Regions from separate parts of the Homo sapiens genome. Here regions 2, 3, 4 and 5 are each linked to region 1. The links come from fine-mapping of genetic effects on gene expression. A gene starts in region 1. Each other region holds a variant in brackets. All regions are shown on one strand. Distances are from middle to middle.

What was found.
Region 2: its variant is fine-mapped to the expression of INTS8 in monocytes after Pam3CSK4 (Quach 2016, PIP 0.95).
Region 3: its variant is fine-mapped to the expression of INTS8 in whole blood (TOPMed, PIP above 0.99).
Region 4: its variant is fine-mapped to the expression of INTS8 in whole blood (INTERVAL, PIP above 0.99).
Region 5: its variant is fine-mapped to the expression of INTS8 in whole blood (INTERVAL, PIP above 0.99).

The regions. Positions count from the first base shown.
Region 1 is chr8:94,821,017-94,826,193 of GRCh38, forward strand. INTS8 (integrator complex subunit 8) reads left to right here and starts at 2,271. Exons shown (of 27, transcript NM_017864.4): 1 at 2,271-2,545; 2 at 3,877-4,051. The coding sequence starts at 2,416. RefSeq lists a silencer at 2,308-2,697 and an enhancer at 2,858-2,917.
Region 2 is chr8:94,278,137-94,283,313 of GRCh38, forward strand. No RefSeq gene overlaps it. Among named protein-coding and RNA genes, the nearest start is that of GEM, 18 kb to the left of the region's middle. The variant C/G (reference allele first, on the strand shown) is at 3,132.
Region 3 is chr8:94,848,406-94,853,405 of GRCh38, forward strand. INTS8 (integrator complex subunit 8) reads left to right here. Exons shown (of 27, transcript NM_017864.4): 11 at 1,057-1,127; 12 at 1,511-1,686; 13 at 3,148-3,281. Among named protein-coding and RNA genes, the nearest start is that of INTS8, 28 kb to the left of the region's middle. The variant T/G (reference allele first, on the strand shown) is at 2,401.
Region 4 is chr8:94,929,363-94,934,539 of GRCh38, forward strand. TP53INP1 (tumor protein p53 inducible nuclear protein 1) reads right to left here. Exons shown (of 4, transcript NM_033285.4): 4 at 1-1,366. The coding sequence ends at 1,117. It also overlaps a transcript of NDUFAF6 not described here. Among named protein-coding and RNA genes, the nearest start is that of TP53INP1, 17 kb to the right of the region's middle. The variant A/AT (reference allele first, on the strand shown) is at 2,033.
Region 5 is chr8:94,861,173-94,866,172 of GRCh38, forward strand. It overlaps INTS8 (integrator complex subunit 8), which reads left to right. Exons shown (of 27, transcript NM_017864.4): 17 at 4,334-4,518; 18 at 4,986-5,000. Among named protein-coding and RNA genes, the nearest start is that of CCNE2, 32 kb to the right of the region's middle. The variant A/G (reference allele first, on the strand shown) is at 2,276.

The DNA.
Region 1 (5,177 bases):
CCACCGTGCCTGGCCAATTCAAATCCTTTACTCACTGTGTTGTTGCTGGGTTGTAAGAGTTCTTTACATATTCTAGATGTAAGTCCCTTATCAGACACATGATTTGCAAATATTTTCTTCTAGTCTTTGGGTTGTCATTCCACTTTCCTGATGGTATCTTTCCAAGTGTATTATTTTTTAAATCAAAATTTTAAATATTTCTTTTGCCTCTGTTGTTTCTGAGAGCCGAAGACATAGCAAGTTGAAGAAGCCTTGGCTTTTTGACATTCTGGGACACCTTTCAAGAACACTGAACCCACACCAGGATTGTCACACACTGACAGGGAAAGATGTGTCACTCCAGACCCAGGCAAGCAAACTTGGCCACAGCTGGGATATGTGTCTTGCATCAAAGCAGAAGCAACTGGTAGTTTTGAGGGTCTTCTGACAGACACCCTCCAAACATACTGCTCAGAAGTGAGGTAGGAGGTGAGATGCGACTCTGGAGTCAGGGTTTGGACACCGGACCAAATTCAGGGATGGGGCTGAAGCAGCTTTCCATGAGACATGCTCAACAGTGTGCCATGTCGGTTTACCATTGCCATGGCAACACCTGGGCATTGCCACCCCATTCTATGGTAATGACCCGATGACCCAGAAGTTACTACCTTTTTCCTAGAAATTTCTGCATAAACTTCCCCTTAATCTGCATGCAATTAAAAGTGGGTGTAAATATGCCTGCAGAACCTCCCTGAGCTGGTATTCTCAGCGCACTGCCTGTGGGTTAGCCCTGCTCTGCAGGGGCAGTCACAGAGCTGTAACACTGCCACTTCAGTAAAGCTGTTCTCTTCTACCACTGGTTCACACTTGAATTCTTTCCTGGACAAAGCAAAGAACTCTCTGGGGTGAAGTTCCAATTTGGGGTCACCTGCCCTGCATTAGAGGGACAAGAGTCCCTGGCTGGAAGCTTGAGTTCATTAGACTCCTCCAATGTTGATGAAGTCTTAAGTTATGACTCCCTCTAAGAGATGGTCTCTAAGTTTAATAAACTTCAAGATCTCTGTCAACCTTCAAGTATTCAATTACCCACTCTGAAAAGGGGAGTTCAGTGCTGTAACACTTTTATGGCAAGACATTTTTGAGTCTAAATAAAACACCTTGGGACTTGAAATATATAATGTTGTTATTGTATTAGATGGTAGTGGAATAATGAACTCTTCCTTAATTAAAACTTATTTTTACATATGTAATACAAATGTCAAAATGTCAAGTTAATCTGTACTGATTTCCTTTTTTTTCTTTCTTTTTTTTTTTCTCGTTGTGAGACAGGGTCTCACTCTGTTGCCCAGGCTGGAGTGTAGCGGCACAATCACAGCTCACTGCAACCTCAATCTCTTAGGCTTAGGTGATCCTCCCGCCTCAGCTTCCTGAGTAGCTGGGACCACAGGTGTGTGTCACCATACCCGGCTACTTAAAAAAAATTTTTTTTTGAGACAGAGTTTCGCTCTGTTGCCCAGGCTGGAGTGCAATGGAGCGATCTCGGTTCACTGCAACCTCCGCCTCGCGGGTTCAAGCGATTCTCCTGCCACAGCCTCCTGAGCAGCTGGGATTACAGGCGTCCGCCACCAAGCCCGGCTAATTTTTGTATTTTTAGTAGAGACGGGGTTTCATCATATTGGTCAGGCTGGCCTTGTATTCACGATCTATGAATGCATCTTTTTTCAGTTTTAATCGTTAATGAAAAATACAAGAACATCACAGAACGGAGGTAAATGTATAGGGTTAACAGCGCCTCTAGCGGGGATATCGAAAGGATCAACTAGGCTCTAAGTATCGGGAGCTAGCAGCAAGGGCTGCTCACCGTATGCTGCCATCCGTCCAGGAAGCGAGTGGGAAGCTGGTGTTCTCGGCAGGACGGCGGGAGCATCTGAGGAGAGGACCCAGGTGCGAGGAAATCTCAGAAATGGGAACGGGGAAATTGAAAGCACAGGAGATAAACTTTGCTTGGGTCACAACTAGAACCCTTCGCTTCGCCTTTACGAAAATATTGAGGCCCGTTGCAACCCTAGATGAGGTTGTCTCATTTTCTCGCTGGAGAACTGTCAGGGAACACGGAAAACCCACCCGCGACCCGGCTTCATGCGGCGCCGTCTCCTATGGCAACCGGGAGGAGGCGTGGTTCGAAGGTTAGTCACGCCCCTTTCCTTCCAACCCGAACAACGATTGGTCCGAAGGCGCGGCGGTGGCGCGGGGAGGCGGATCCAGGACCGCAGCTCCGGCTGGCCCGCGCCGCCATTTTGGATTGTGTGAGTTTCCGGGACGTTCGGAGGGTGGCCTCTCTCCCACCGGGTTCCGCATACCCCAGGCACCGGCCCGCATCCAAGTGTCAGGTTGGAGCCGGGAAGCGGCCCTGGTGGTAGCGGCGGCGGGGGCAGGATGAGCGCGGAGGCGGCGGACCGGGAGGCGGCCACCTCCAGCCGGCCCTGCACCCCGCCGCAGACCTGCTGGTTTGAGTTTCTGCTGGAGGAGTCACTGTTGGAGAAACATCTGCGCAAGCCCTGCCCGGGTGAGCGCGGCGCCTGCACCTGGGGAGCGGGACCCGGCCACCGGCGCTGTCCGCCCAGCTTCCCTCCGCTCCCCGCCTTCTCGGTCACCGAAGCTGCGGCCTGGGAGGCGCGCACAGGAGCCCAGCTCCGGCCGGGCTCCTCGCTTCCCTTAAACATGCCCGGGTGGAGGGTCAAAGAAAAGCTCGAAACAAAGGCTCTCCTACCCCCGGAGGGGAGGGCTTGGTGCTGTCATCCTAAACCCTTTGGTCCTTTTTACGATTTACCTTTTTACTGTTGGGGTTTTAGAGGCTGCGAGGCGGGTCTTGTGGTTGCTTGGGTCGGGGAGGCTGACCAGACGCCTCCTTCAACCCCAAGCTGAATAAATTCAGGGAGCTGGGGAGAAACCAGCTGTTGGGTGTTGATCGTGACGCTAGTTATTATCTTAGGTTTTATTTAAACATTTTTTTCTTCAGTGAGGGAATTTTATTGACTCTTATTCCAAAGTTGGGCTGTAAGTTAAAAGAAAATCTTTGAAAGTAGGAACTGCTGCACATTTGCAAGATGGCTTTGTATAGTGATGATAATGATTAATAGCCCAGTTAAATGGGTGTGATTGATGGGGGAGGAGGAAAACTCCAGGCATTCTCAAAAAAGGTATTGGCACAAAAAGGTAAGTTCCTCGGATAGCATTTCTCTAAATTCAAATCTAGATATGGCTTGTTCAGTCTCAGACTGGCCTTCACTGATAGAGACCACTGTGTAAGAAGTTAGTGTACTTAGGCAGTTTTGGCACCTGTATAATGCCCTTAATTCATTCCTTTTGAAAGATAATTTGTTGAGTGCTTTCCGGGTGCCATGCACTGTGCTTAATTGCTCACATCCGTTACCTCCTTTAATTTAATCTTCAAAATGATCCTCTATTTTGCATTGGAAGAAGCAGGTACGGAGAGGTCACTTGATGGAGGTCCCCCTAATTAAGTGTCAAAATAATAGTTCTAATATTTATATCTCATTCTTCTAATTGGCAGTGGTTATTTGCAGAACCAGAAATCTATGACTGTTATGTTCTTCCCCGTAAGGTGCTTTTTTTTGCTTTCTTCCACTCTAATCTGTTACCCTTCCTCCTTACCACTCTTCCGCATCTCCTTTAACCCCCAGGCACACTTCTTACATACGTATTCCTTAGTCATTTTAACAGCGCAGCTGTTTGGATTCCTTTTGTGGCAAAAAAAAAACCCAAACTCCCCCCCCCCCCACCCACCCCCCCAAAAAAACCAAACCAATAGTGAATCCTTTTGTATCTACATAATTAAAACTTAAATTTAAGAATTTATTTTCTTTTAAACCCTAGATCCTGCACCAGTTCAACTTATAGTTCAGTTTTTGGAACAGGCTTCCAAACCTTCAGTTAATGAACAAAACCAAGTTCAACCTCCGCCTGATAACAAGAGAAATCGTATTTTAAAACTACTTGCTCTTAAAGTTGCTGCACATTTGAAGTGGGACTTAGACATATTAGAGAAAAGGTATCCAAGATTTCAGTGAAATTTCATTTGAAGTGCTATTTAGATATCTTGGTTTATTTCTATATATGCTTTTATGATATCGGCTCTTAAAAATTACGTGCTGGGCGCCGTGGCTCACGCCTATAATAATCCCGGCACTTTGGGGGCCAAGGCTGGCAGATTACTTGAGGTCAGGAGTTTGAGACCAGCCTGGCCATCATGGTGAAACCTCGTCTCTAGCCGGGCATGGTGGCGGGCGCCTGTAATTTCAGCTACTTGGGAGGCTGAGGCACGAGAATCGCTTGAACCCGGGAGGCTGAGGTTGCAGTGAGCCGAGATGGCGCTACTGCACTCCAGCCTGGGCGATAGAGTAAGACTCGGAAAAAAAAAAAAAATAATAAAATAAATATTATATATTCTTGATAAAATATGCAAGTATAACATTACTTTTGATGTGGTAACTAGAGAAAATCCACACCTAAACTGTTGTAAATTTCTCAAGTGACTTTTACATATCTGAAGAAAATGAATAAAAATTAATGATAGATGTTGTGTAATATGAATGATTTGCTGTTGAATAATTGAGTTGATTTTACTGGTCATAAATCACTATCTCCTATTAAAACAGCTGATTAGAGTCAGTGCTTATTTGCTTAAATATAAATAATTTCAAGCCTTTTATTAGAAAATGATTTATTATCATCCCCTTCTCATCACAATTTAAAACATCCCTTATAGGAAGTTGGGAAAAATTTAAAAAATAGGAAATAATTGGGGAGGAGAGGGGTTTTTTTTGACATTTTCATGTAATTTTTTTTCTTTGTTCTCCATAGGCTTAAAGTTGTGATCATACCCTATATACTGTTTTTATTCCTGGTTTTTTCACCTAGCTGTATCATGAGCATTTCCCCTTTTTTATTTTTTGGAGAGAATTCCGTTGTATGGGTAATTTATTAACTGTTCCTTAATTGACAGTCATTTAGTTTATTTCTAGTTTTTCACTGATATAAATCACAGGGCCTTAAATATCTTTGCCCATAAAATAAGTTTATCTGTATTTTGAGTTGTATTCTTAGGATAGCTCCTTAAATTGCTGGATCGTGCAGTATAAACATTGTTAAGACACATGAATATTGCTGGATTGCAT
Region 2 (5,177 bases), 540 kb before region 1:
GATTTTTCTTGGCCCCTTCGCTCCACTCGCAGGAGGGGTGTCCTGTCTACTCGGCCCGCCATGCTGAACCCCTTGTGGGAGGGAGCACATGAGTGAGCGAGTGCGAGATCCGGTCAGCTGCTCCAGGCGCCGGCAGAAGCAAGCTCCATGGAGGGCTCCTGGTGGTACCCAGGTGAGGGTTCCTGTGACCCTGAAGCACCAGGGTGGGTGTTACGGTGCTCTTTTAGTTCCGCTGTCCACAGGCAGCAGTGTGTTAGCAGTTCAGCTGACCCCTTGTAGTGGCACTTGGGTGAGGGTGCCCATGACCCCAAGATCCCAGAGTGTGTTACAGTGTTCTTTTAGTTTTGCTGTCTGCGGACAGTGGTGTGTTAGCAATTCAGTTGGCCCTTTTCCTTGTTGCTTAGGGCAGCTGCCTTCCGCCAGAGAGGGCAAAAGGCCAGTGTAACGCCCTTTCCGGGTACCCACACTCAGTGGGTCCCAAGCTCTTGCCCAGCATCCAGGAATAATGAGGTTGCTCAGACAATTAAAGGGCAGATAATTTTATTATGCATTAAAAACGGCTCTCAGCAGAGAGGGGAGCTGGAGACGGGGCAAGATGGACAGGCTGTCTTACCCCAAAGTCTGGTTGTCTCTTCCATAGTCTGGCCATGTCTTCCCTGAAGTCCAGCCGTCTCCCACACTACTGACAGAGTCTGGGGTCTTTATAGGCACAGGATGGGGGAAGGGCAGGCCTTAGGTAGTTTTGGAAAAGACATTTGACTGGTAAAAAGACATTATTCAGATAGAACCAATCAAGAGAGAGCGGGCAAACAGGAATAGAAGTTCTTACTTTGGGCCATGGGTTTCAGGCTACTTTGGCTTGAAGGTGGGGTTTCACCAGGGACCCACCCGTGTCTGCCTAGAATTTCTCTGCCTCCTACCTGTATCGATCGTACAGCCACACCCTCAGCCTTTTTTTTTTTTTTAAGAGGATGCTTTCCTAACAGGAGATCTTTCCATTTTAGCATATTTTGCAATCTGAATAAGCTAAGCATTTTCCAAAACATGAAGTCTTGGATCTTCTTTTTTTTTTAAGAGTTACCTTGCTCCTCTTGCATTTGACTGTGAGCAGCAAGAAGATCCAGGCCATACCTTTAACACTTTGCCTGGAAACCTCCTCACCTTGATATCCAAGCTCATCATTTACGAATTTTGCTTTCCACATAAGTGCAAGTCATAATTCTACTAAGTGTAAGAGGATCCACTTTCCTCCAGTTTCCAATAACATGTTCCTCATTTCCTTCTGAATTCTCACCAGAATTGTCCTTAAAATTTAGATTTCTATTAATAGTCCCTTCACAACCATTTAGATATTCTCTAAGATGATTCTTCTGAGCCCTCCCCAGCAAAGACTTTTCTAGAGCCCATAGGCACTTTTCTTAGAGCCCATAGGCAATTGTAAGGGTTGCTTCAATAGTGCTGACCCCTCTGAACAATAGCTTTCATTTATATATAGTTTGCAAAGTGCTTTTTAAAATATTATCTTTATGACATCAGGTGAGGAAAACGAGGCAGTCTTCCTAGCCCCATTTATCACATGGTGAAACCAAGGCTCAGAGACCTTTCAAAGGTAAGTGACAAGGAAAGGGCTAAAACCTTAGGTCTTCTGGTTTTTACTTTTAAAACACTGTTCCAAGCTCCCTCCCTTCCCTAAAGATAAAATCTTATTCTGCTGGTAGATTAGCAGAATAGAGGGAACTTAAGCCTTTGAAAATTGAACACATCTTCATTTTAGTTTCTTTTGAGGGAAGGGAGTTTTCCATAAAATTTAGCATCCAGACAAGCACAAAAGTCAAGGGAGAAGATGAATGAGGCGAGGTCTGTCAGCAGTGAGCTCAGTCCAGTTGGCAGAGGATATCTGAGATACTTTGGCGCCTTGTGCCTGGATCTATGAAGTGCCCACTGATAAAACCTAAGCTTAGTTTTAAATAAACAGTAAGTCTTCCTTCCATCTTGAGCAAGAAAAAGCTAGATATGCCAGGGGCTTCCCATCTAACTTTCAACAAATCTGGACTATTTGCCCAGAACAAAGAAGCCCTTAAAATCAACCATCCATGGAAACATTCAAAGAAACCAAGAGATTAATCTATCTACAGAGGCCTCTGGTCCAAGATGGCAGAGTCAACAGGCCTCGACCTCCCCTCCTTCCTAAAATCACATTGACATGCCAGTAAAGAAAAGAATAAATCACATAAAAGAAGCTTTCAGCAAGTCAGAAATTTGGCAGATTTCTGGGAATAGAGAAGATGAGATTGCACTGGCAGATAAAACAGAGAGGAAGCAGCAACAGCTCAGAATGTACACCACAGAAAGCTGTAGCTAAGGCTGGAGCCATTTTGAGGGCTCTGAGTTCCAAGTCAGCAGGAATAGAGTGGGAGTGGGAAGAGGAGCAGAAATCAGGAGGATGAATGGAAGGCCTGCTGCTGGAACAGAGAGGCAAGTCAGGCTGCATCTCCACTTTTATATTTGGAGAACTGTCAGCTGGAGGATGACACCTGGGAAGAAACCAAAACTATGCTTGCTAGAGAGAGTAAAAACTGTCCTTGGGGAGGACCACATCTGCTGGTTCATGTGCTGGCCCTGGCAATGGGCACCCATCGTTTGGCCTGCCTTGCATCTCCCTTTCTTTTAGAACTCCACGTTTGCTTTGGGGAACCACTTATCTTGCACTGCCTACAGTTTGGTCAATCAAGAAACTGTGAGCCAAGTTGCCTTCCTCTCTTGGCTAAGGGGAAGCTCCCTGACCCAAGAGAGGCCAATCGGATCATCTCTCAAAAGAGACTGACACAAACGCTGAAAACAGCTCAAGTTTTTTCACCTGCCAATAGAGATGTTTCACCTTCATGGAGATGTTGCCTAGAGGTAAATCCCCAGAGATGTTCTGATTTCTGTGGACCCTGGCTCCTATTCTGCCCTGAACCTGGTTCTTCTACTTCACCCCGGACTTTGTATACTACCCCATATCTTCCCCGTAAGTTTCCCTTGCATCCAAAAAACCATAACTGATACGTAAACCCAGAGTAGAGCCCTTATTGTATAGCATTTCCTTCCTTGCCATCTACCCTATAGCACAGGCTGCCAGTCCACACCCA[C/G]TAGTTCTGGGCTAACTATGAGAGCTTCCATTCAAAGATGCCACAGACCCATGCAATAGTGGAAACCAATGGCACAAAATAGAGAGGCCTAGATAATCAAACTAAATATCTGTAGTCAAAGGAAACAGCTAATTAAGTGATGAGAAGACAACTTAAAAATAATTCTAATTAGTATACTTAAAGAGATTTGAGACAATTATGCCTAAAAAACCTACAGTAGGTAAAAAAAGGAACAATAAAAAATATGATAACCAAATATTTTTAAATTATTAGAAAGCAACCAAAAAAAGTCAAGGAGATCCCCTAGAATATATAGCAAAAGCCAAAGAAATGAAAAATAAAAGCAAAATGTTAAGAGTCATATAGAGGACTTATCCAGTAGTAACCCCCATATGAATTTCAGAAAGAGAAAATACAAGGGAGAAAAATAGGAAATAAATAACAGAAGAAAATTTCCCAGAGCTAAAGAAAGATATGTGCTTTATAGATTACAAAGGCTTAGCAAGTACAGATCAGAGAAATAAAAAAGACCCATTCAAGGATACATCATTGAAACTTCTGAATACCACAGACAAAGGGAAGATCTATTTGTCCTTAGATTTTAAAAAATGAAGATTAACTATAAAAGAATAAAAATTAGATTGTCTCACATGAATAAGCAACAACGGATGTTGAAAAATACTCTCAAAGTTCTAAGAGAAAATTTATTTTGAACCTAATATTCTGTAAATAGCCAAAATCTCAATGACATATGAGGTGAAAATGATGAAATTGTCTCACAAGAGCTCAAAAAAATGACCTCTCACATAATCTTTTTGGAAAATAAATTCCTTTAAAAGTATCCAGCAAGTCGAAAGAAAACGTGGAATCCAAGAAAAAAGAAAAGCATGGACTCTAATACACAGGGGACCCAATCAAGTAGCTCAATGTAAAAAAAAAGAAAAGAAATTTTTTTTAAAAGCCTGGGATAACAGTTGTACAGCGCTTAGGAAGTAACCAATCTAAATTAAAACAATAAATCAAAGAACTCAGAGAATAAGTCTTCAAGAAGTGAAATCACATTAATAAATTAAGCAGCTGGATGGTCTTGGTGATAATATGAAGTTATGTGCTTCTTTTGTACACAGTAAAAAGAAAAAAAGACAAATAGAAACCCTATTTGGGGAGAAGCATACAAAGATAAGGAAACCACAACCAAATTCAGAATGAAGCCAAAGTGCAGTATGACTTTGAGCCACTGAGAGTGAAAAAAAAAGGTAATTCATTTCTGATGCTTGGAACATTTTACTTTGTGTAGTTCAGTTCTGTGGTATATGACTACATTTCCTTCCAACTGCATGTTCTACACAAAATAATATTTACATGATTCATGTTTTTGTAAACTTTTTATTGCTGTTCCATTTTTATTGTAAAGTAAAATAAAGATACAAGAGAGGCACAAACCAAACATATAATTTAATGAATTACTATTAGGAGAGCATCCATTTAACTACTGCTCAGCTCCTGGAAGAGAACATTGCTACCCACCCAGAATCCCCTCCATTTTCACTATCCCAGTCTCAACCCTCCTGGGTTTTACACTAATCATTTCTTTGGATATTTTATCACCCAAGTATGCATCCTTAGCTGTTAGAGTTTAATCTCAGTCATTTTAAAAATTTGATATCTCTTAAGGCTTTTTTTAATATATAGGTTTCCCCTCTATCCCTCTTTTTTTCTTACATTTTATGTATTGAAAAATACGTAGTCTGGACACTGCTGAGTGCATACTTACAGTACAGTTCAGCATGTTCATCTTCTCTGTATTCCTAAAAATGGGCATCTAGATTCAGAGCTGGGATTGGACTCAGGTTCTGTTCTTCTCACAGGATAATAGGTGGTAATATGTTCCTTTTTTTTTTTCTTTTTGTTGTTAAGTTTTGCTGTTGTTTCAGTTTTATTGACATAAAATTTACATCCTATACAATTCAACCACTTAATGTGTGCAATTCATGGCTTTTAGTATATTCATAGGTGATAAAAATGTAGTAAAATTAGCTGTAGTAT
Region 3 (5,000 bases), 27 kb after region 1:
CTAGAGTTGTGCAGCTATCACTTCACTTCCTTTTTTCACTCCAAAAAGATAATCTCTTATTCATTACCTGTCACTCTTCATTTTCCCTCAATCTCGCACCACCTGAGGCAACTACTAATCTAATTTCTCTATAGATTTATCTGTTCTGGATATTTTATGTAAATGGAACTATGAAATAGATGATCTTTTGTAACTGGCTTCTTAGCACGTTTTCAATATTGTAGCATGTATCAGTACTTCACTTTTTATGGCTGAATAATACTTAATTGAATGGATATATACTGTATTTTGTGTGTTTATTCATCAGTTGGTAGACTGCAGGTTACTTATACTTTTTGGCTACTATGATTAATACTACTATGAACATTCTATTTTGTGTGTGTGTCAACGTAAAAAATATTTAGCAATTTCTTGAGATTATGGACTTTTACACTAGTTATATTTTATTTTGGCTTCTTATAAATAATATATTAGGAGGAATCCTAATCTAATGAATAAATTCAACATAATATGAAAATATTATTTGTAGATAACTAATATGACCATAACTAGTTTCTATTCTTTGTTTGCATTGTTTACTTTTTAAACCTTGGTTACCTTTTTAACTATTCATGAATAGCTCATGAATATAGAACCATTAGTTCTATATTCATGATAAATCACTTACTCTTTTCAATTATTTTCTTTTTGGTTTTAAAAATTTTTTATTTTTTTAACTCTTTTCTGACAGGAGCTACTGATTTCTATGGTTTATCACTTAATATAATTTGGCAACATAGTTGATAAATTCTGTGAGAACTGTATAGCATGGTAACTAGGTTATTCTTTGCTACATGTATACACCTGCACTTATTAAAATGGTCACATTCCATTCCCTCTTTGTGATGGATTGTTATTCCTTGGTCTGGTCTCTTCTGTTAAGTTACTTAACTAAATCTGTGATTGGTACATTGTTGAAAAAGGAAAATTCAGTTGTTTTTAAATCCAGCCTTTTCAAATTATAATTTACATTTTTATAAGTACCCATATTCAAATGAAAATTACTCAAATTCCTAGGTATGTTCAAGATCAGTAAATTTAGAAAAAGCTTCAGAGTCTTTGAAAGGAAACATGGCTGCTTTTCTAAAGTAAGTACCTTTCTTTTCTTTTTTCTTTTTTTTTTTAACTTTGAACTTAGTCCTGTGAACAAAATATCTGTATTATCTTTTGTTTTTGTCTTGGGTATCTTTTAACCAGGCAGTAACTGGTGTTTGAGAACCCATTAAGTTCAAATTTGTATAGCCACGTGAGACATTAGGATTATATAGTTACCTTTTTTTAATATTGTGGCATTGACATCACAATTTTAAATAAGGACCAAAGGGAAATTTTAAAATCTATTTTAAAATATCATTATACAGTTTATGTAATGGTGGCTTTTTAAATGGCTTATTAAAATTGGTTGATATGATTGTTTTTCTCAAACTAAATTATACACTTTTTTGTTTTACAATATTTCTTACTGATCTAGGAATGTGTGTCTGGGGTTGGAAGATCTGCAGTATGTTTTCATGATTTCTTCACATGAGCTTTTCATTACATTGTTGAAAGATGAAGAACGAAAGCTACTTGTTGATCAGATGAGGAAGAGATCCCCTAGAGTAAATCTGTGCATTAAACCTGTAACTTCATTTTATGATATCCCAGGTTAGCTCTCTAGTCGGCCAGCCAAAATGTTGGCATGTTTTGCCCCTCTATTCAAATTAACCTTGAAATATATTTGAGGATTCTCTCTTGTTTTAATTAACACTTGTGTTGGTAATTAATAGAAATTCACCTGTCTTCCGTATCAGATTTCTGTATAAGCAGTTATGCTCTGGAGCTCTGCCAAGCCAATGATTAGTACAGATTCAGTCCTAGATACATAAAAGATTTTAGCTGGGGAAGGCTGGGCGTGGTGGCTCACGCCTGTAATCCCAGCACTTTGGGAGGCCAAGACGGGCGGATCACGAGGTCAGCAGATAGAGACCATCCTGGCTAACACGGTGAAACCCCGCCTCTACTAAAAATACAAAAAATTAGCCAGGCATGGTGGTGGGCGCCTGTAGTCCCAGCTACTCTGGAGGCTGAGGTAGGAGAATGGCGTGAACCCAGGAGGCGGAGCTTGCAGTGAGCCAAGATTGCGCCACTGCACTCCAGCCTGGGTGACAGAGCGAGACTCCGACTCAAAAAAAAAAAAAAAAAAAAGATTTTCACCGGAGAAATAGACCAAGGTAACACTGCTGCCAGTATGTTCATGGAGGTAAAAACAGAAAGCAGGAGAGGAGTGGTGAGAAATGCTGGGACCAAAAAGAGGACAGATTTTCGTGCATGTCAGTCTATATCACTGTGCTAGTATCTGCTGACTGAACAGCTTGGCAG[T/G]ATTGCTGTTTTTGCCTTGTTTGATTTTTTTTTCCATTTTTGCCCTTACAAATATAAGTAGAAAATACAATGCTGTTTTTAAATAAGAAACATAAACTTCAACATTTAATATAGATGAGAGAGAATTCGATTGGTTTAACAAAAGCAAACTTTTAGCTTCTTTGACCTTCACTAGATTTAAACTGGTTGAATGTCCAGTTGTAAAGGAAAAGGGTAAGGTTAACACAGAAATGCTGGAAATGCATTATTGAAGACCGTATCTGATATCTGAGCTGTAATTAGGGATTTTGGTAATCATTTTTGGTTCTCTGGGAAGAGCATGCCCCTTTCTCTCATAAAACACATGCTTAATGTTTATTACTCAAAATTAACATTTTATATATGCTTCTGTTAACACATTATATTCAAAAGTAGTGTATAAGTTGTGTATAAGTCTGTAAGTTAATTATTTTCATATATTCCACATAGTTCTTTGCATGAAATATTGATTTTTATCTTGTTTATATTTTCATTATCTTTATTTTTAAAATGCATTCATTTATTAAATGTAGATATAGTAAAATTTTGTTAGGTTTTCTGTGTGAGGATAAAGTTAATGTGTAATTTATACAATGTTGAATGCATCAGTTCTCAAGATGATAGCAGCTTTTAATTTATAGATATAATACAAAATACATAATTTTAAGTAAATTGTTATTCTCGTGTATATCTTTGAATTAAATCATTGAAATATAAATCTTTTTTTAGCTTCAGCAAGTGTCAACATTGGTCAGTTAGAGCATCAACTTATATTGTCAGTGGATCCTTGGAGGATTAGACAAATTTTAATTGAATTACATGGTATGACTTCAGAGCGCCAGTTCTGGACAGTGTCTAATAAGGTAAACCCTATGTCAAGAACAGATAAGAAAATTGCCCTTGTTTTCTGAGGTAATTTAATAGAAAAGCTGTTCCCTGACCTTTTTGATAATAAGGACCTCTTACTTAACAGTTTTAAGACCTTCATATGAACATAATTGCATTTTTAACATCCATTGACAGAGAAAATAGGAAATGTCAGAAACAAAAAGATACCATTAAATGAGTAACATCTAAAAATGAGTTTTTCCATTTGTTGACAAAATATACGCATTTTATTTCATTCATTTGTTTTTTGAGACAGAATCTCACTCTGTCGCTCAGGCTGGAGTGCAGTGGTGCAATCTTGGTTCACTGCAACCTCTGTCTCCCAGATTCAAGTGATTCTCCTGCCTCAGCCTCCCTGGTAGCTGGGATTACAGGTACCTGTCACCATGCCCGGCTAATTTATGTATTTTTAGTAGAGATGGGGTTTCACCATGTTGGCCAGGATGATCTCGAACTCCTGACCACCAGTGATCTACCCGCCTCTGCCTCCCCAAGTGTTGGGATTACAGGTGTGAGCCACCACGTCTGGCTGCATTTTAAATATAGTTGTAAATATATGTAAATGGTATATTATTTATGCATTCTGTAGCATAATGCTTCATTATGGAACATTTTTGGCTTTAAATGTTCCTTTAAAAACTCCCAGCTAATACATTTACCTGTTTCTGAGTTTATCTATTAGAAAGTTTTCCAGCATAGAAAGTGCAAATAAAAATAGCTTTTAAAACACCATTTCAGTGGAATGTAGCTTAGAGATACAAGGGAAGTAATCGACAGATACAGGAGAAATTAAAGCAATATGGTAATGCTCGTAACTAACTACATACTTACTCCTCCCCTGCTGAAGATGTAGTAAAAAGGCAGCCAGAAATGTATGGTTTGTTTTTTTTTTTTGAGACTGAGTTTCACTATTGTTGCCCAGGCTGGAGTGCAATGGTGCGATCTTGGCTCACTGCAACCTCCGCCTCCCGGGTTCAAGCAATTCTCCTTCCTCAGCCTCCCGAGTAGCTGGGATTACAGGCATGCCCCCACCATGCCTGATGAATTTTGTATTTTTAGTAGATACGGGTTTCTCCATGTTGTTCTCCATGTTGGTCAGGCTGGTCTCGAACTCCTGACCTCCTGACCTCAGGTGATCTGCCTGCCTCAGCCTCCCAAAGTGCTGGGATTATAGGCATGAGCCACTGTGCCCGACCTGTATTTTTAAAAATTGGGTTTAAACATACTAGTAGAGAGAAAATAAAAAATTGCTCTAAAAATTAGTTGGGCTTTTTTTTAGCATTGATGCTATTTATTAGTGTGAATTTTTAAGATGAAGGCCAGGTGCAGTGGCTCATTGCCTGTAATCCCAGCACTTTGGGGAGCTGAGATGGGTGGATCACTTGAGGCCAGGAGTTCAAGACCAACCTAGGCAACATAGCGAAACCCCGTCTCTACTAAAAATATAAAAATTAGCTGGGCATGGTGGCGCGCACCTGTATTTCCAGCTACTTGAGAGGCCGAGGCAGGAGAATCACTTGAACCTGGGAGGCAGAGATTGCAGTGAGCAGAGATCACGCCACTGCACTCCAGCCTGGGTGACGGAGCGAGACTCTATCTCAAAAATCAAGAACAAACCAAAAATTTTTAAGATGAACAAGTATAGCATGATAGTTATGATAGGGGATTCTGGGACTAACCGCGTGCTTAAGCTT
Region 4 (5,177 bases), 110 kb after region 1:
AAAAAATGAAAAGTCACTTGGACTGCAGGGAAGAATACTTACAATACAAGGCAATTAAAAAAAAAAAAAGAAAAAAGTTGAGCCAACCTGTCACTCTTCACTCAGATGCCATGAAAGACATCATCACCAGACAGTCCCCACACTCTTGCCACTTGGCAGGACAGGCTCCATGACAGAGGATTTTTCACTCTGTGGAAATATAAAGCCTATCTCTTTTCCCATGGGCAGAGAGAAATATGAAGTCACTTGAGTGCCTGGACAAGTACTTCCAAATTTATAGCTGATGCGAGGTGAGGAGTGGACAGAATTGGCGGGAAGGAATAGTAACAAATTAAATACTGCACTAATGGGTTAGTTACAGACATGAATTTTTCCAAATATAATCTCACAGGTCTAATTTAATCCCTCTGCACGAGACAAGTGCCTCTGTCTACAACACCTGTAATGTCTGTACCACGTCATGCAGTCACATTGGAATTACTGCATGCACTCTTCACTAAAGCTTAATGTACCTGAATTCCAAATGAACTGTATGACTAATCTGGGGAAAAACCATACACACAGAATACATCAAGTTTTCTTTCAAAAGAAAGTCCAGCCATAATTCCATTATATCCATGGCAACTATCACCTGTTAATGCTAATGTTAGTGTGTAAAAATGTATTCATCATATACAGAGAGATTATCAAGTACTGGTCAATAAAGTGTACAGCTGACCCTGAGAATAAATTTTTGCTTGCTTAAAAGATTAAGTAATACAAAATAAAATGAAAATGAAAGATGCCTATTCTCGTACTTGGGAAGAAATGTCTTTAAAATGCTGACTAATGTATAACCTAATATATTTAAAGACACCCCCAAACACTGTAATTATATTGATATGTTTCCAGAAATAATCTGAAAAAGTGTACAAAAAAAGTAAATGTTAAAGGCAAGGCATTATGTGATACACAGCATATAAATCTGATTTTCAAGATAGTGTCTAAATACACTGATAAAACTATGTGATTGGTTATCAATTGGTTGTAAAGAGACAACATTTTCACTGTACATATACACACATCCATACATGTAAGCACAAACCAAGAGAAACCAACCAACAAAACTTGAAACTATTAGTAATTGTACTGACGCGGGCAGGGCTGATGAACAACCCAGCCATTGTGCTTGACTTGCCGAGGGTGGCAATCCCTGGTAAGATTTTGGCGACGAAGGCTATTTCTGTTAAGAGGCTGTCTTTCACTGTGTTCTTTTATCCACTGGGAAGGGCGAAAGCTCTTGGGTTGTTCCAGAAAAGTTGTATGAGCAGCAAGAGCTGCAACATAACAATGAATATGCTGCCCCATTTCATTTTGAGCTTCCACTCTGAAACAGAAAAAAGTGGGGATGTATTAAATAACAGAGTATGTTATTAACAAAACTGGAAAAGTTACTTAGCAATTCAATTTGCCACGCTAATTTGTTTATGGCTGAATGAGAGCTTGTGTTTCATGGCTGACAGACAAGTTTATTATTCTGTGACCCCACTGACTGATAGTGGTGGAAAGGAGAGCCAACTGTTACTAGAAAGATGCCATATAAGCCCCAGATGGCTCACTAAGTAGACTGTTTTCTAAAAATACACTTTAAACTTTGAATTTCATTTACGGAGCACACACATTTATATAAGCTTGTCTGGGAGGGGAGCTAACATTTATTGAATATCTGCATTTGCCAATTCTTTTGCAAATATATATTTTAATTCTCACCATAATCTTAAAAGGAAAATATTTTAATTCCCAAATTTTACTGATCAGAAAGCAGTGTGCTCACAATACCTTCACAAGACATTTCCTGTCTATAAGTAAAATGTTCCAGGAAACATGCTTTAAATCTTTATTTAATAGAAATTTGCATATGGAAATTCTACTCATTTGCCATTTTTCTAGATAAAAAGCTATAGCTTAATAGAATAAATCTCTTAAGTTTTTCTTTATCTCACAACAGGGCACATTTTGAGATGGTATTTACATGGCAATATAAGACTCTTGA[A/AT]TAACACAATCTTAAAATTGGCTACACACAGTATGATTATGTTTTCCATATAAAAAAGCTAATCAAGTAGGATTGCTGTAAACTATGTCAACACGTAACATGAAGAGCTGTATGATTTTTAAGAGTTATTTTACACAGGAAGGGCAGTGACACATTCTGCCTAAAATCACTTGAGGAAACACACATATTTATTACACACACACACACACACACACATAAAATTTTTTTAAAGTAGAATTTTAAGAGGCCACAATAAGAAACTAATAGAAAAAAGTTAATATAAAGAAAATTATTTTTAGGCCAGGCGCTGTGGCTCGCTCTTGTAATCCCAACACTTTGGGAGGCTGAGGCAGGTGGATCACCTTAATAGAGTTCAAGACCAGCCTGGCCAACATGGTGAAACCCCATCTCTACTAAAAATACAAAAATTAGCCAGGTGTGGTGATGCAAGCCTGTAATCCCAGCTACTTGGGAGGCTGAAACAAGAGAATCACTTGAATCTGGGGGGTGGAGGCTGCTGTGAGCCAATATCACACCATTGCACTCCAGCCTGAGTGACAGAGTGAGACTCCATCTCAAAAAAAGAAAGAAAGTCATTTTTAAAAGGTCAGCATTTGGGTCCTTTGCCTCCCTATGCATACATATATCACACAGTCTCAAAGTGAATATACTTACTCTGTGCCCGTGAGTCTTATAAGCAGCTTTTCCTGGCCCTACAAATGTTAAATGGTGAACTATTAAATCACTAGTAAGATTTAAAATGCTATTGTAACTTTACTATTAGGACGTGGTCAACTTTTATTAAAACTGGTTTACTATGTGCCATTAAAGGCACGTACATGTGCTTAAGATAACATGTAAAACCTTCAAAAACAATACTTATAAAGGCTAAAATGCAATGAAATGTATACCCTGAAGCCCACTGTAATTACAAAGCACCTCAATTTTCTGTGCTTTATGGTAATATCCCCAATGATAGACACAATGGAAGCAATCTGACTTCTGAAAGACATATGATTCATTTCCTGCTAAGAAAACAGATATTTACTACAAAGCTAGCCTAATTTTGGTAACACCTGATTTCCACCTTGATTTAGCAAGACTTCCTTATAAGAATTTCAAATCCCTGCCGGGCACGGTGGCTCACGCCTGTAATCCCAGCACTTTGGGAGGCTGAGGCGGGCGGATCGTGAGGTCAGGAGATCAAGACCATCCTGGCTAAAACAGTGAAACCCCGTCTCTACTAAAAATACAAAAAATTAGCTGGGTGCGGTGGCGGGCGCCTGTAGTCCCAGCTACTCGGGAGGCTGAGGCAGGAGAACGGCATGAACCCAGGAGGCGGAGCTTGCAGTGAGCCGAGATAGCGCCACTGCACTCCAGCCTGGGCGAAGGAGCGAGACTCCGTCTCAAAAATAAAAAAAAAAGAATTTCAAATCCCAAAATAAGGATGTTAAAAAAATTATAGTTACTATTTTAAAACTAATAATTTACAGGAGTTTCCTGTGTACAAAAAGGATTCACATAAAATTCAGTGCATTCTGGCCGAGCACAATGGCTCATGACTGTAATCCCAGAACTTTGGGAGGTCAAGGTGGGCGGATCACTTGAGGTCAGGAGTTTGAGACCAGCCTGGCCAATATGGTGAAACCCCATCTTTACTTAAAATACAAAAAATTAGCTGGAGATGGTGGCATGTGCCAGTAATCCCAGTTAATCGGCAGGATAAGGCAGGAGAATCACTTGAACCCAGTGCGGAGGTTGCAGTGAGCCGAGATTGCGCCGCTGCAATCCAGCCTGGGCAACAGTGAGACTCCGTGTTAAAATACATAAATAAAATTCAGTGCCTTCCTTTGACCCTTTATATATGGAAAAGTATGTATTTGTTTTACTATCCCTATATAACTATCATATATGAATGCAAAAACAAACAAGATATAAAAACAACATTCTCACTGTACCAAAACTAGAAAACCATAACAACCTTGAAAAAGAAGGAAGGAAGAAGAAGGAAGAAAGAAGAAGAAATCTACTGAAACAAAATGGTGGAGATCATTGCCTAAATAAGTAGTTTATAAAATAGTATATCTGGGCCGGGCACAGTGGCTCATACCTGTAATCCCAGCACTTTGGAAGGCCAAGGCAGGTGGCTCACCTGAAGTCAGGAGTTTGAGACCAGCTTAATCAACATGGTGAAACCCTGTCTCTACTAAAAACACAACAATTAGCCAGGTGTGGTAGTGCACGCCTGTAGTCCCAGCTAATCGGGAGGCTGAGGCATGAGAATTGCTTGAATCTGGGAGGCAGAGGTTGCAGTGAGCTGAGATCGCGCCACTGCACTCCAGCCTGGGTGACAGAGCAAGACTCTCTCAAAAAAAACCCCCAAAAAAACCAACTATACATCTGGGCATGGTGGCTCATGCCTGTAATCCCAGCACTTTGTGGGGGGGGGGGGAGGATCACGAGGTCAGGAGTTCAAGACCAGCCTGGCCAACATGGTGAAGCCCCGTCTCTACTAAAAATGCAAAAATTAGCTGGGCGTAGTGGCGGTGGCACATGCCTGTAATCCCAGCTACTTGGGAGGCTGAGGCAGGAGAATTGCTTGAACCCGGGAGGCAGAGGTTGCAGTGAGCCAAGATTGCAACATTGTACTCCAGCCTGGGCAACAAGAGTGAAACTCTGTCTCAAAAAAAAAAAAAGAAGTATATATGGCATGTTGCCATTTAGGTTAAAAGTTTATGTGTACGTACAGGCACAGAAAAAAAAAAACACAATCTGGAAGGATATACTCTAGGATGTTAAAAGTATTCATCTCTGGGTCATGAAAATGTCATTTCCAATTTTTGCATATTTGTATTTTCTAATTTTTTTACATTGCATTTGTACTGTTTCTGTAGTAAATTCTTTTGCAAAGCTGCTGACTACACACACACACAACACTGCAAAGTAAACATATAAATGCCAGTAAGTTTAAAGTGACTATTAATTATAAATTCTATTTTTTTTTTTTTTGAGACAGAGCCTTGCTTTGTCACCCAGGCTGGAGTGCAATGGCGTGATCTCAGCTCACTGCAACCTCTGCCTCCCGGGTTCAAGCAATTCTCCTGCCTCAGCCTCCCTAGTAGCTGGGAGTACAGGCGCCCACCAG
Region 5 (5,000 bases), 40 kb after region 1:
TTAAAAACTGAGCTCATTTCATTTTAACCCTTTCAGGATTTATTGAGTTTATTGATTTCTTCAGTTTTTCCCCCCTTTTTGTAATTTTTTTTTTTTTTTTTTTTTTTGAGACGGAGTCTCGCTCTGTCGCCCAGGCTGGAGTGCAGTGGCGCGATCTCGGCTCACTGCCAGCTCCGCCTCCCGGGTTCACGCCATTCTCCTGCCTCAGCCTCCCGAGTAGCTGGGACTACAGGCGCCCACTGCCATGCCCGGCTAATTTTTTGTATTTTTAGTGGTGACGGGGTTTCACCGTGTTAGCCAGGATGGTCTCAATCTCCTGACCTCGTGATCTGCCCGCCTTGGCCTCCCAAAGTGCTGGGATTACAGGCGTGAGCCATCGAGCCCGGCCCTTTTTTTTGAGACGGAGTTTTGCTCTTGTTGCCCAGGCTGGCGTGCAATGGCACGATCTCGGCTCACCGCAACCTCTGCCTCCCAGATTCAAGCAATTCTCCTGCCTCAGCCCCCCGAGTAGCTGGGATTACAGGCACGCACCACCACGCCTGGCTAATTTTGTATTTTTAGTAGAGATGGGGTTTCTCCATGTTAGTCAGGCGGGTCTGAACTCCCGACCTCAGGTGATCCGCCCACCTCGGCCTCCCAAAGTGCTGGGATTACAGGCGTGAGCCACCGCGCCCGGCCCGGCCCTTTTTGTTATCTTTACACTTGCTCGTGAAAACTGCCATACTTGAATTACCCTTTTCTTTGAAATTTCAGACATTGAATCATATCTATCTCTTCTTTTTTTTGGAGACTGAGTCCCCCTCTGTCGCCCAGGCTGGAGTGCACTGGCACAATCTCGGCTCATTGCAACCTCTACCTCCCAGTTTCAACCCATTCTTGTGCCTCAGCCTCCCAAGTAGCTGGCATTACAGGCATGCACCACCACACCCGGGTAGTTTTTTTTTGTTTTGTATTTTTAATAGAGACGGGGTTTTGCCATGGCAGGTCTAGAACTCCTGACCTCAGGTGATCCCCCCGCCTGGGCCTCCCAAAGTGCTGGGATTACAGGCATAAGCCACCGTGCCCGACCTGAATCATTTCTATCTCTTTAGTGAACTTTCTGGCATGTGAGTTCTTAATATATTGGGCACTTGTCTCATTATGGACACCAGTAATTTCTTAGCCTTTAAGAAAATCAGATGAGGGAACCGTTGTGTTCCAAGGTTACTGTCATTTACACTTACAATCATAGCTTGTCACTGAGTGCAAAGACAGCATAGTAACTCTTCTCTTTACCTCTGGCAGTGAATTCTGTGGAGCTGTGCACCAGGAGAGATAGGCATGTGTTTGTGTAATGAATGCTTGAGGGTCTGCAATGTGTAAGGACACAGGAAATTGTTTTGTTGGTTGCCTAACTCTGGGAGAGGCTGTCTCACTGCTTCCTGCAGTTCCCCTGATCTGGTCCAAAAGGAGGAAGGATGTGTGGTGACTTTGCGAAAGAATTGTCACTTAGATGTCTCTTCATATGTCATCTGGTGGTTAGGGTTTTGTGTGCCACCTTCCATACATAATTGGCCTCTCACTGCCTTGTTAATGTCAAGGAAAAAGGAATTAGAGAAAGAAGTTTAGAATGAGGGATTGTGTTTTGAAAAAAATACAATCTGAATCAGTTTCCACACTTCCAAGCTGGTGTGGAATGCACCACACACACACACGCACACACGTGTAGGAAAAAGTCTGAAAGGATATTAACAGCCATTATCTCTAGATAATGGGAAATTTGGTGATTTTAATGTTTTCTATTCTGTTACATAGGAACATATTTTCCTACTCATATATTACGTAATCACAAATAGGAACAGAAAATTCTTAAGCATGTCACTAAAATATACCCTTTTGAAATAATATAAAACTGTCTAGTCTGCCCCTTGGATCAGAGTGGGTGGCAGTGTCACATAATGGAAAGGGCACAGGTTATAGGCACTTGGATGATAAGAACCTAGGTAGTAGTGGGGGGTTGGCAGCCACAGTGGTGCTAGTATAGGCTAAAACCTTAGGTTGTTCATGTGGCCTACCAGGCTTCTTAAGGTGTGCATGCTTCTCCTCCTCCAGGTGCAGTTCCCCTGCCCCTTGGCGTTCCAGCCCTGTGCTGGCAGCACCAGCATGCCCACGCCATGTTTCCATTCTGCACCTGTGCACACGCTGTTTGTCACATTAGCCAGGATGTCCTTTCCAGCTTTGCGTGTTTGTGTGATTTCTCTGATGCTTTCCCATATTCTTTTCTCTGTAAATGAGT[A/G]AATCACTTCCTCTTCCTGCTTCCTTTGTACTGTTGTACTGATCCTGCTACTGTTGTACTGTTGACTTATTTCTTTTGTTGTGTTTATGCTGAATAGTAAGTTATATATCCACTTGTCTTCTCTATAAGACAATGAACTGCTTCAGGGCAGTTAATTTTTATGTTGTGCTTTCCATGATGCCCACCACACATAGTAGGTGCTCAAGAATGTTTGTGGAATTCAATTGATTTGAGGCCTTAGACTTTGAAAATTTTTTAAATTAAATTTATGTAATAAATTCAGTGACCTTAAAGCATATGATCCCTGACAACAGAAGATGAATTTGAGCTAAGAGCTACAGTAGCCCTGGCATTACACTGCAGTGAATAGCTGCATGTATTGTGATTCCATTTGTCAGAGAAGAGTATTTTAGGTAAGCTTGCAGGATGAAATATCCTGCTAGGCCATTGGTCCATGTCTATTCACCTAGTATAGGCAGGGTTTTTATGTTATTCTCACGAGCTTCGGAAAGCCACAGTACTCTTGTTAATTTTCTTAGGCATGATCACAGAGTTGTGGTTATGGAGAAGAATGTCCTCGTCCTTAGAAGATGTATGTGGAAGTATTTAGGGATGAAATATTGTGTCTAACTTAGTTTAATATGGTTTAACAAAAAAATTTATGTAGATATATAAAGCAAACATGGCAGAATAGTCACAATGTGTCAGGTATTTATTGAACTTTTTTTTTTATTTTTCTGTTTGAAATTTTTCATAACAAAAAAATGTAGAGAAAAACCACCAATTTTTGTCCTTGTCACAATCTTGCCACCTCCTTAAAAAAGCCGCCTTAAGCAGTAGGGACCCCTAGGTCCATTTTAAGTAGAAACCAGGGGTTCCTGATGGATTTGAAATTATCCTTGCTACTGCACCCTCTACAAGAGCGATGGAGTATAAAAGTTAATATGAACAAGGGTAAAGGGGCCCAGTTCTGAATTTGGCCAGATGCTGTGGCTCAAGCCTGTAATCTCAGCACTTTGGGAGGCCGAGGCGGATAGATCACTTGAGGCCAGGAGTTCGAGACCAGCCTGGCCAACATGGTGAAACCCCGTCTCTACTAAAAATACAGAAATTAGCCGGGCATGGTGACACATGCCTGTAATTCCAGCTACTCAGGAGGCTGAGGCACAAAAATCGTTTGAGCCTGGGAGGCGGAGGTTGCAGTGAGCCAAGATTATACCACTGCATTCCAGCCTGGGTGCAGAGCAAGACCCTGCCTCCAAAAAGAAAAGAAAATAAAAGAAATTCTGAATTTATTGTAAGTCAATCTTTCCCTGTCTTTTGCTTTTAGCTTTCCCACTCTTTATTTCTGGGTCCTCCCTACATCCTAGGTCATTGAGGCTGCCTTTATTCATACCAGTCACTTTGTGTAACCTGTCCTGCCTTAATTCTACCTCCTCAGAAGAGCAGTAGCTCCATTCCCAGTTGCTACCAATTTTCTTAGAGAAAAATTGCTTTAAATCTATATCCCTTAATTCTGCCAACTTCAGTTTCCTTATTCCTTTCCTTATTTTTTTCGTTGAAACAATTTTTTTTTTTAGTGATTAAAAGTTGTATGTGTGTGTATTTGCACGTGGGAGAGAGAGAGATCTGAGCACTATTTTAACCTCACCCCCTGGGCTTTTACCACAGTTAACATCTTGGTGTATGCCTTCCATTACACTTTTTTTTCCCTATGTAACGTGGGATCATACTATGTGTATTTAGCAACTCGTTTTTTTTTCCACTTAATAAATCACCTATCTCTTTGCGTTGTCTCATTTTCGTTTTCATTAGACTATAACTGTTCAGAAACAAAGTTCGTATGCTCGAACCAGAGGATCTTTCTCAGATTCAGATCTGTCAGTACGCAATGAGCCCTAAATTCCTCAAAGGTTGTACAGAATGCACAGCATAAAATAACTGTGCTTAGTATGTTTGGGCAGTCATTCCATCTTTCCTCCAGTGTGCCTTGATAATAGAACTAATGTGCACGACATTACAGATTATCTTTTGTGTATTTTGTTTTTCATGTTATAGCTTGGACAGCTTTTAGCAGCTACATGCAAAGAACTTCCAGGCCCTAAAGAAAGTAGACGGACTGCCAAAGACCTTTGGGAAGTTGTTGTTCAAATCTGTAGTGTGTCCAGTCAGCACAAACGAGGAAATGATGGCAGAGTTAGTTTAATAAAACAGAGGGAATCTACGTTAGGTATCATGTATCGGTATGTATTGGTACGTTTCTATTAGTTGTGTTTGAGTTCTTAATATTTATCCTATTTATACTATTAACCTATTAAAGGTTGATTTCAAGAACATCAGCTTTTATTCTGTATATCATAAAGTTGGACAATCTTACGAGTTCTGTAGTACTCACCTGTGATGAACCTGTCTGCCTTGGCCACCTTTGGAAAGATCTTTTGTTTATATGTCATTTTAAGAAACTATTAATCATTTAATCAACTGGAATTCAAAATCAGTAGTATTTAAGGTTGGATAGTATTGAAGACTTCACATGTGATTAAAACAGGGAAGAAATGTTATTAGGTTAGTATAACAGTAGAATATTACATTCCTTTTCACACTTGCAGAATTGGAGCATTAAGAATAAACCTTCACCTATAATTTACTTTCTTGATTTTATTTTTTATTTCTAATATTAAATGTGTATTCAAAAATTTTTGTTTTGTAGGAGTGAACTGCTTTC